Regions from separate parts of the Homo sapiens genome. Here region 1 is linked to region 2. Evidence: fine-mapped expression QTL. A gene starts in region 2. The other region holds a variant in brackets. All regions are shown on one strand. Distances are between the middles of the regions. Region 1 holds the start of ZCCHC18 (zinc finger CCHC-type containing 18). Region 2 holds the start of SLC25A53 (solute carrier family 25 member 53).

The links. PIP is the estimated chance that this variant, and not a neighbour inherited with it, causes the effect.
Region 1: its variant is fine-mapped to the expression of SLC25A53 in testis (GTEx, PIP above 0.99).

Annotation. Positions count from the first base shown.
Region 1 is chrX:104,107,764-104,113,139 of GRCh38, reverse strand. All of the region lies in intron 1 of SLC25A53 (solute carrier family 25 member 53), which reads left to right. It overlaps ZCCHC18 (zinc finger CCHC-type containing 18), which reads right to left and starts at 617. Exons shown (of 3, transcript NM_001143978.3): 1 at 139-617. RefSeq lists a silencer at 667-896 and an enhancer at 2,094-2,333. The variant G/CCTATCTCTG (reference allele first, on the strand shown) is at 3,160.
Region 2 is chrX:104,154,654-104,160,029 of GRCh38, reverse strand. SLC25A53 (solute carrier family 25 member 53) reads left to right here and starts at 3,021. Exons shown (of 2, transcript NM_001012755.5): 1 at 3,021-3,152. It also overlaps a transcript of FAM199X not described here. RefSeq lists an enhancer at 2,948-3,247.

The sequences.
Region 1 (5,376 bases), 47 kb after region 2:
CCAGGAAGAGATGAGGAGATGCAAAAGGGGTTCAAGACAGCTTGCGATCGTCTCCTCCCGCCCCTTGCCACCTCCCCGAACACACCCCGCCCCCGACACCCAACAACACCCCCGACCTACGACAACACCCCCACCCACCTTAATCCAGGCAAATCCTAAATCCTATCCAGTCGGCAGCATCCAGATGAACCACAACTCCTTCCTCAGCGCAACCAGGCCAAGGGAGTGCTCCATCCCCTGCCTCGCAGTTACTGATTCTCCAAGCCGGGCGCCGCCCAGTCCTGGCGGGGCTTCCCCCACCCCTCTCCGCGCCGGGCAATCGCGCGTTCTTTCTTTACTTGTGCTCCACTGGTGGGCAGCATGTGCTCCCGCGTCCACAGCTCTGTTTCGCCTTCCGGTCCCCGTAGCTCTGCAGGGGAACGGGATCTCTGCCGCCTCCTCGGCCGCTAAGCGACCCGGGGCTGCCCGACCTAGCGAGTGCGCACGACCGCCCAGCGAGGGGTAGCCGAGTCGAGGCAGCACGGTTCCCAAGGCAGCCAAGGCTGCGCCCACCCTCCAGTTCGGCCCTCCGGGCAGCCGCGGTTGCTTTCAGTCTCTGGCGACTGAGACAAAAGAGCGTGACGGGCCGGGCGACGCGGCCAATCAGCGGGGCGAGGGGGCGGCCTCGCCGCACAGCCTCCGGCCCCGAAGCTACTGCTAGCAAGAAGGGGGAGCGGGCCGGCTGGCCGGCGGGCCGGCGGGCGGGGGCTGCGGCAGACAGGCGCGGGAGGCGGCACGGCGTCAGCAGCTCGGACGCACGGACTGGGCCCATTTCCCTTTCATCCGTGAGTTTGCTGCTAACCCATCTCTTCCCTTCTCCCTATCCCCTTACACCTCGGCTCTCCTCCGGGCTTTTAGACCGGATACCTTAAACACGAGGTGGGACAGAAACCAAGTGAACAATGAGAGTTCCTCACCTTTGTATAGGGGGAAGCGGGGAAACAGCGTTTACTGAGTGCTTTCTGTGTGCAGAGGCGCCTGCATGGACATCTCCTTTCCTCTTCTCAGCAGCCGTGTGAAGGAGGTAGTAGTGTGCCCATTTAACAGGAAAGGACTGAAGCACCCAGGCAGTACAGTTAGGAAGTGCAGAGTTAAGAGCTCACACCCAAGTCACCATGTCTGACTTCAAAGGCTGCCCCTTGCCAGCACTCCTCTATTCTGTCAGATTAAGGGATAGTGGAGAAAAACCAAAGCCAGATGGGAGGACCAACTTGGGATTGCATAGAATTGGTGAGCAAGAACCATTATCTCCATTTCACAGATGAAGAAACTGAGCCAGAGAGAGACAGGTTACTAGTTTTGGCCTGTATCCTGCAGCAAATAAGTTACAGCATCCAACCTAGCACCGTCTGTTGCTCTCTAGATGCTAATTCGTTGCCCTGCAGCGCTGCCTGGAGAGTATTTTTGCACAGGTAGTCTCAAACCATCTCAACAGCAGTCTCAATGTGATAATAGTGCTGAGGGAGGGGGTGAGGAGGTAGTGGGGAGAGGGCTGAGGGAAGATGAGGGCAACCTTTATGGTGCCCATTGTACAGAAGAGGAAACTCTTCTTGGTACTTTTCTTTCTTTCATTTTTTTTATTAATCTTTTTTTCTTTTCTTCTTTTTTTTTCTTTTTACACAACAAGCTGCCTGTTTTATAAAAGCAACATAATTTCGACAGCCCTTTGTGACCCCAAAGAGGCCAGGCTCAGAGAGGTAAAATGATTTGTCTGAAAATACAAGGTGAAGCCAAAATTTGAACTGAGTCTCTGAATCCAGAACTCATGCTATTAACCAAAGTGTGAGTACAAGGTGAGCTGCCTCAGAATCATTTTGGAGAGCTTGTTATAAATGTAGATTATTGGGCCTTACCCCTGGGGGATTTTGATGTAGTAGGACTAGGGGTGAAGAGTGTGATTTGTAGTTTTAACCAGCCCTGTAGTTGATTCTGAGGTGTAGAGAGATTCATGAACCACTTTTCTAAACACCACCACGTGATGCTGAAGGTTATAAGTAAATGGGCCTGCCATCAGTGTATCTGTCCATGGCATATCTGTCATGAAATGTAACTCCAGAGCACAGGTTCCTACCCGAGGTCCTTCCTGGAATTGTATGCAAAGAATCTGGACTCCGTACATTCTTCTGAGCCCACAGCTTTGCAGATTTTCAAATGGGTCTGTCATAACGTCTTCCTTCTTCAAGCCATGCTTGATGAAGAAGTGTGAGAAATAAAACCCCATTTAACCTAACCCCCAAACCACAGCTCTCTGTTGCTGATATGGCTCTTTCATTTCCTGGCTCAAGGACAGGTTGCTAGGTTGCCCTTCTGTGAGCTCTTCAGGGTACTTCTCCTTTGCTGGATTTGGCATCACTGGCCCCAGAGAAGGAGCAACTCCATGGAAACGGCATGCAGGGCTGTCCAAAGTGAATGGCCATGAAGGCAGTGGCTGGAAAACCTGCTCCATTTTTCCCTGACTTAGAGAGCAGGTATTACTTCCTTTATGTATAGTGTGGCTAGGAGGCTTCTGTGGGGCTTGTTCTTGACTCCTGATGTTTAGAAGCAAGTAAACAGTCTGATGCCCTTCCGCTGCTGTTGGCTTCATCTTCAGTCTGCCAAGGTACTTCACTTGCTCCTTTCCGCCCTCTTATTTACAACCCCAAGATCTAGAGTTCCTTGGAGTAAACAATAAAAATTTGGAGATAAGCACCTTCCATCTCAGGATCATGGTCTGTGGATGGAACAGTGGGGTAGTGGTGGTGGAGGCTGGAAAGTGTGGATGTATGGAGAAGGCAAGTTGCTCACCTCACACACTTAGGGGTGATGCTGGCAGTTGCTCTTAGGTTTCCTTCAGACTTTTGCTTCTGCTCCCCCATCCCGTGACATCTGACCCTTACCTCCCAGAAGAGTCTTGTTCAGTGTTTAAATTGGCTTTATCACCAAATTAGGTATTTGCAGCTGGACTTGGTAGGGATGGAATCACATAGGACCAAGAATAGGTGTCAGAGCTCAGACAAAAATAATGACAGGAAATGGATTGTGTAAAGGTGCCAGGGTTGGGCTACTAGAACAAAGCGAGGGACTCTTCATGCAGGGATGGGGGTAGTATTTGCAACCTGGCTTCAATTGGATACAGGACAT[G/CCTATCTCTG]GCCTCACATGTATGAGTGTGTTCCAACTGATGCCTCTAATGAGACCACATTTTCTAATTTCAACAAATAAACCTTAAAAGCTTGAAGGTTTGGAGATAAAGCTTTCAGTTGAAACAATAATAGCTGCCTTTGGCTGCCTGCCTCCTTTGTGCCAGGAACTTTCTGTCTGTTATCTCTTTTAAGCTTCTTATCAACCCTGTTGAGACAGCTATTGTATCCCATTTTGCAGAAAGGGAAACTGAATTTCAGGGACATTAAGTAACTTGTGTCAGGCTTCACAACTTGTAAGTGGAGGCACTGAGACTGCAGGCCAGGGATGTCGAACTCCAAAGCCCATGAAAACTCTTCTTTGCTGCCTTCCAAACAAGCAGTCCAAAATGCATTCTGTAGATAACCCAGTTCATTAGACCAATTGCAGCCTTTAGAACAATTTAATTGTTATCTTGCCTTTATTCCTATTATCTCATTTTTAAAAAATGAAACTGCTAATATAACTTATGAAGCAACTTATATACCAGGTGCTGTGCTAAGCACTTTCCATACTTTGTCTCATGCATCCTTCATGACAATCATTTTACATATAAGGATACTGAGGATCAGCGAGATGATGAAACTTGGCCAAGGTTATAAAGCTAGGAAGTGACAGAGTGAAATTCAAACCCAGGGCTGCCTGTATCCAGAGCCCATCTCTGTGCCCTACAACACAATGCAGCGGAGAAGACAAATGTGGTCCTCATCTTAAATGGGCTTCTCTCTGTCAACCACAGCTCTATTTCCTTCTCACCACATGGGGTAGGCCAGCCCCATGCACAACTCACACTCTTAAGCCTATGTGCCTTAGGCCACTTCCTCAGCCTAGAATGCTTGCCCTCACTCCCCTACCTAACAACAGCCTATTCTACTCTACTCAATTAAGGATTGAGTCATATGCCCCTTCTCAGGTGGAATAAATTGCTGTTGTCTTTTTGCTTCCACCTTCATTACTGTACCCTTTATTTTGTCTTTCTGTAGAGTTTAGCACACTGTTGACCTGTCTCCCAAGCTAGTTGACTAGATTTCTAAGCACTTGAGGGCAGGCACCAAGTTCTATTCACTCTAGCTCTATGGTGGTTTACCCACAATGATTTAGTGGATGATCAATACATGTTTGTGAGCAGACCAAAGGACTGGCTGAGAGATGCCCTGAATGAACAGACAAATGCATTCATTTGTGGCTGGATCCTGGGGCAGTCACACAGTCTACCCATGTGGACTAGACTGGCTGGGAGAGTCTGGAATCCTCTGGGCTCATTTTACTAGGCTGTAAACATAGGAGGCAGGTCATAGGGTACAGGTGATATCTGCTTAAGGCCAACTCTAGGTCCATTCTGTGGTCTATACTTTGAATTCATGTGAAGGGGCCAGGCTCTCCTAGATTGCTTATGTTGCACCTTCCTATTTGTGGAAGTAAGGGCTTCCCTGCCTCCCTTGGGAACAGAAGATTTGTTCCCAAATGCCCCTGTATCTGGTTATGGCTGTCCCGAGAGCATCCAGAAGGAGCATGCGTTCTGTGGAGACAGATAGTGAAGTCCAGAAGCATCTTTTTTTGATCCTTCTTATCAAGGCCACCATGTTATGGATTCTCAACCACTTTGTCTCATTTTATGTTATTAATCTCTGCCACAACGTTTTGAGGTGGATCTTAATACCCCTGTTTTGTAGCTGAAGAACCTGAGACTGAATGAAATGTCTTTTCCAAGGTCACACAACTAAGTGGCAGAGGCAGAATTCAGTCTCGGGTCTGTCTGCCCTTTCCAAAGCCTGGCATCTTAACAGAAAATACATGGGAGAAACACGAACTCCCCTCCCATAAAATGGAAAGGATTGGATTTATAAAATGGATTACATATTAAGGTTAGATGTTTCTCAATTATTGTTCACCTTTATTCCCCCAAAATGATTTACAAAAATGGCAGAAGGAGTTGGGGATTGAAAAGTACAATTCCTCTATCAACTATTGACCTGAATGCCCAATATCACCCCCCTCTGACAGATACAGTATGGAGATGACTAAAAATTATTTTGCCCTTTCTGCTCCATTTACAGCTCAGATGGGTAAGGCTCCAAGATGTCACTGAATTTCTAAAGGTCACACATCAAGTTGATAATAAAACTCACTTAGAATGCTGGTATCTCATACTACCCCACCTGCTTCCTGGCCTTTCTGGGGTAGGTGC
Region 2 (5,376 bases):
AGCGAGTGCTCTCAGCAGCAGCGGAGTGAGAGAAGCAGGATATGGCTGGAGGAAAAAACCTAAGCTCGCTGGAAACAAGCTCTAGCCTAATCCCAGGAGGAGCTCTGGAGTAGGATTTACACCACAGAATTGGTCAACCTTGAGGCAAGGTACCCTTGTACTCTCATCATCAGTTAGTCATTGCTTTTGGCTGCAGGGTTGTGTGTGTAGGGGTTGGGGTTATTAAACAGAAATCTCCCAGGCAATGAACCTCTTCTGCAGAGTGCAATTCTGCAGAGAAGGAAGCAGCTGTATTCATCAGCTAATACCCACAGCAGCTGGGGGATGGATCTATCTGCCTTGTAAAGGGGGCCTGAACTGGTCACCAGCTGTGTAAAACACTATGGTATAGAAACACTGTCATATATATGTTAGGACCCCAGAACAGCTCTGAAGAAACAAATAACTGAAACATACTGAAGAAAGCACTGCAGAACCTGAACACTTAAATTATGTACGTAGAGCATTGCTTCTAAAAATATGCTATGAGTACGACTAAGGATGCTAGGAACACATCTCCCTTTCTAACATTGGGTTTACGAACATCCTCTCCCCTCAACTACCCAGTTTGCTTAGCAGTAGCAGCTGGTGGTGAATTCTGCCATTAGGGCAAGATGCCCAGCAAGGAAAGAACTGGGTTGGTTAGGAGAATTTAAGGCAGATGAAGTCTCTGGAATGGGGATATGGTGTGTAGGGTGAAAGGAGCTAAAAGGGAAAGGTTTCTTTGTGTATGAAACCCACTCACCAATCTCCACCATTTGTTTATTTCTACCGGCCCTAGAGACACTCTTGTTGGCTCGTCTTTCCTCTGCCAACACTTTTGCTTTGCATCAGGATTTTTCTCTTTCCTCGCCTCTGAAACTCGACTTCTCACAGCTCTACCCCTTACACTGACACTTTCTAATAGTTTGACAGCTAGAAATAATGGAGAAAATTAAGTAAAAAGTCTTTCCGTGCTACCTCTGTTATTTTTGTTTTTAAATTTGGCCAAGCCCAGACATGTGTGCTATCGTTGGGTGTTGGGGGAAAAAATAAAAGACAAGATGATTTGTCTGCAATTCAAACCCAAGAGGGTTTCCTAGGTGTGGAGTGATGGGTTCTGAAATGCCAAATGAGAAAGAAGGTCAGGGAGCTACAAAAGAGGTACAGAGGTAGGGACAAGGCAGTGCTTCATTTACCTTCAGCAAACCTGGTGATTTACCTTCTCCTTCAGTCCCTTCACCATCACCAATCCTTCCCCTGAAAAAACCATTGTGGACTGCCTGATGATAAGTTGGGAAGTGAGAGTGGGTAGGTGTGGAGCAAGAATAACAACATCCTGGGTACCGTACATTCTGAAGGAACAGAGGGAATTCCTGTTTTGTTTTAACCTGGGACAGAGGGGATTGGTTTGTTCTCTCCAGGCTGAGGCAGTAATTCCTGACTCTAGGGACTGCTGATATGGAAATTACTACTACCACTCTGGGTGGAGTCAGATGAGTATATTAAAGAGTCTCATTGTACTGTCCTAAAATAAGCAAGATCTTTGCTAATATCCAAGCTTTACAGAACGGTGGGATGAGGTGAAGGCCCTGTACCTTTATCCCCAGTGGTCTTCAGTACTATAGGAAGTAATGGGGCCTGTGTGGCACAGTGGAGGGCAATGAGTGAGCTGGTTATGCCAATTCCTACTATAGTCACCTCCTTGGCTGCCAGCCTTCAAGGGAGAGATCTTTGCCTTAGTGGGTTCTGCCCTTCTGCTTCTGAAGAGAACCTAGTCTTTCTGTATGGGCATTCAGGCAATTCTTGGGGTGGGGAGTTGGGGGAGAGAGAGCACTTGAAAAGAATTTATGGTGGCCTTTTTCTCAGTGATATTTGAGAAATACCAAGACACATCTGAATGTATCTGAGTTTAAGTCTTGGCTCTATTTGTTATTAGCTCTGTGACCGTGGGCAAGTTATTGATTTATATGCAATCTGACTAATCTGAGTTTTCTTAGCTGCTTTAAGCAGACAAAGAGGACAGGAAAGGGTAATACACTTAAGAACCAGCAAAGGGCTATTGTGAGGATGAAGCAATAACAACAAAATGGGTTTAAAGCACTTATCATAGTGCGTGGTCCATAGAACTGCAAACGTTGGATTTTGCTTATTTTAGGACAGTACAAAGAGACTCTTTAATATACTCTTCTGACTCCAGCCAGAGTGGTAGTAATTTCCATATCAGCAGTCCCTAGAATCAGGTATTACAGCCTCAGCCTGGAGAGAACAGGGCAATCCCCTCTATCCCAGGTGAAATGATTATTATCATTTATTATTTATTAGCCAGAGGTCTTAGGTGAGATCAAATTCAATCATTATAATTTATATTTCAATATACTGCTTAACTTCATGATAGGCAATGTTCTAGGTGCTCCTCACATGTGAAATTTTAATATTTTTACTGCAACTCTGGAGGTAAGTACTATTATTATACCAATTCTACAGATGAAAAAGCCAAGGAATAGCATGCTTGAATCACTTGCCCAAGATGCCATGTTTAGATAGTGGTACAGTGGGGATTCGAACGCGGGAGCTCAGGTTTCAAAGTCTGTGCTCTTTACATATGCAGCTAAAGAGTCAGACAAGAACCAAAAGGAGATGGAGAATAGAGGGTAGAAAGGGCACAGGTTCAAGGTGAAAGGTCAGAAACTGCAAATTCGGAGTTTGGGTTGGTCTAGCAGCTTAAAGGCGTCATCATGAACTGTTCACCTAAGTAAGTTAAGCTCCTGTTTGAGAATGACTGATAAGCTTGCAAGCCAACTTACAAACAAACTGGGGAAATGTTCCAATAGATGACTAAGTCTTTTAGGTCTTTTTACCTGTGTTTTTCGGTCTCTATACCAGATTAGTCGCCTGGCTCTCCCAAACAGACCGGCCAACTGACGTAGTCGCGAAACGGTTAATGTCGAGGCGGGGGCGGGGGAGGCGGAAATAAAGAGAGCGGAAGCAAAGAGGATTGTGGGAGCTCCGTTGTGCGTCGCTTAAGTGAGGGCGGCGGATGGGCGAAGGTCCGGTGACTGCGACTGTCGCTGCTTTCTGAGGCCACAGGAAAGGGGCCGTCGGTCGCCGCCATGACAGCGAGCGAGGCGGAGGTTTGTAGCACTTCTTATGGGCTGAGGGCGTAGACACATCCTGCTTCCAGCCTAGCAGGCAAACGGGAACGGAAGTGATAGGGGATCAGAAGTTGCGAGGGGATGAGGAGTAGGGGAAACTGACAAGCGGACGGACCCGGCGGCGAGAATTGATGGCGTAGCTGTAGGATTAAGGGGCGTGTCAACTGTGTTGTGTGTGTTGACACTGAGATGTGTGAATCCCCTCATTATTTTTAGCTGGGGACAGGCGGGGTCTATGGGGGAGGGGGCGGACGGATGAATGGAGGATAAAATCAGGGCGAAAACGTGTTGTCTGCTGGGCACCAGTACATCTGAGTCACATCTCAGCAGGATGATTTTATTGGAAAGATCTAGGTCCCTGGTTTCAGATTCTGCTATTGATGCGTTGATTGATTTCCCTTACCAAAATACCAAGTACCTGCTCTGTGCTGGGTACTGCACTAGAGGCTCCGGATGAGGAAAGGAATTAGGCTTTTTCCTCGACATTTACAGCCTGCCGGTTGCTATCTGCATTTGGAGACAGGCTATTACAATACAAGGAGACAGAGATAGATCCTGTGTTATGAAAATCTATTGGGTGCCACCGAACTCATCTGGGAGTTGAGATCTGGGACGGCTCTTTGATGCGGTGATTTAACATATATTTTGAAGACAAAATAAGCAGGGCAAAAACGAAGTGCAATTTTCCTCCAAGCACCTTCCCTCCCTGTTGAGGTGAACTGGAGAACTGAGTAGCATTTAAGGCCCAAAATTAGTGTATTTCTTTTTTTTTTTCTTTCTTTCTTTCTTTTTTTTTTTTTTGATAAGGAGTCTCTCTACTTCTGTCGCCCAGGCTGGAATGCAGTGGCGTGATCTCCGCTCACTGCAACCTCCGTCTGCCGGGTTCAAGTGATTCTCCTGCCTCAGCCTCCCGGGTTGCTGGGATTAGAGGCACCCACCACCACTCCCGGCTAATTTTTATATTTTTATATTTTTAGTAGAGACGGGGTTTTACCATGTTGGCCAGGTTGGCCTCGAACTCCTGACCTCAAGTGATCCGCCTGCCTCGGCCTCCCAAAGTGCTGGTATTACAGGCATGAGCCACCGCGCCCGGTCCCCACAACTAGTTTATTTCTGGTAAGAGCATTTGCCCATCACAATGGGACTTCCAGGCGCCTCTGGAAGAATCAGTCTTACGTGAGTGCAAAGCCTGCAAGCTCTGGGTAGGACTACGATGGAGGTGCTAGTTACTTGGTTTTCCAGCAAACTCGGTTCACAGCAGGGAATTGTGCACCCACCAGAAATCCTAAGCAATATTTCTCTGAACAAGAAAAGAAGCCTCTTTGTTTACCAGAGAAACAACAGTATAGCAGTCTAAGTCAGTGGCTCTCAAACTTTCCTGTGAATCAGAATCAGATGGAGCGTTTCTTAAAACCAAGATTGCTAGGTCCCATCCACAGAGTTGCCCCTACAGTTGGTCAGGAGTGGACCCCCGAATTTACATTTCTAACTAGTTCCCAGGAGATGCTGATACTCCTGGACATGGGGCCATACTTGGAGAACTATAGGTCTAAACGGAGCTGACAATAAATTGGAAAGAATATCTCCTGGAATCTCTTAGAACCCGGGAGGCAGAGGTTGCAGTGAGCCAAGATTGCGCCACTGCACTCCAGCCTGGGCAACAGAGTGAGACTCTGTCTCAAAAAAAAAAAAAGAATATCTCCCCTAGGGAAGGCTAGGCACACTCCTAAACGTCAGGCATGTCTGAATTCAGACACAGTAGATATGAAATAAAATGGACTTATTTGACACTGCTTAGAAAATCTTTTTATTTTTATATTTGTATAATTTTATTGTATATTTACAAATTGTATACATTTATAGAGTTCAAAGTGGTATTTTATATATATACAATGTAGAATGATTAAATCAAGGTAAATAACATATTCATCACCTAAAATTTTATCTTTTTTTACACAAAAATGACTCAACATGGAATTTAATAGTTTTTTTGTGGTGCTAACATTTGAAATGTACTCTTAGCTCTTTTGGAATATGAAATTTTGAAATATCACCACCATTCTATTCTCTGTGTTTGTGGGTTCCATTGTTTTAGATTCCACATACAAGTGAGAACATGAAGTATTTGTCTTTCTGTGCCTGGCTTATTTCACTTAGCATAATGTTCTCCAGGCTCATCAATGGACAGATTTTCCTGATTTTT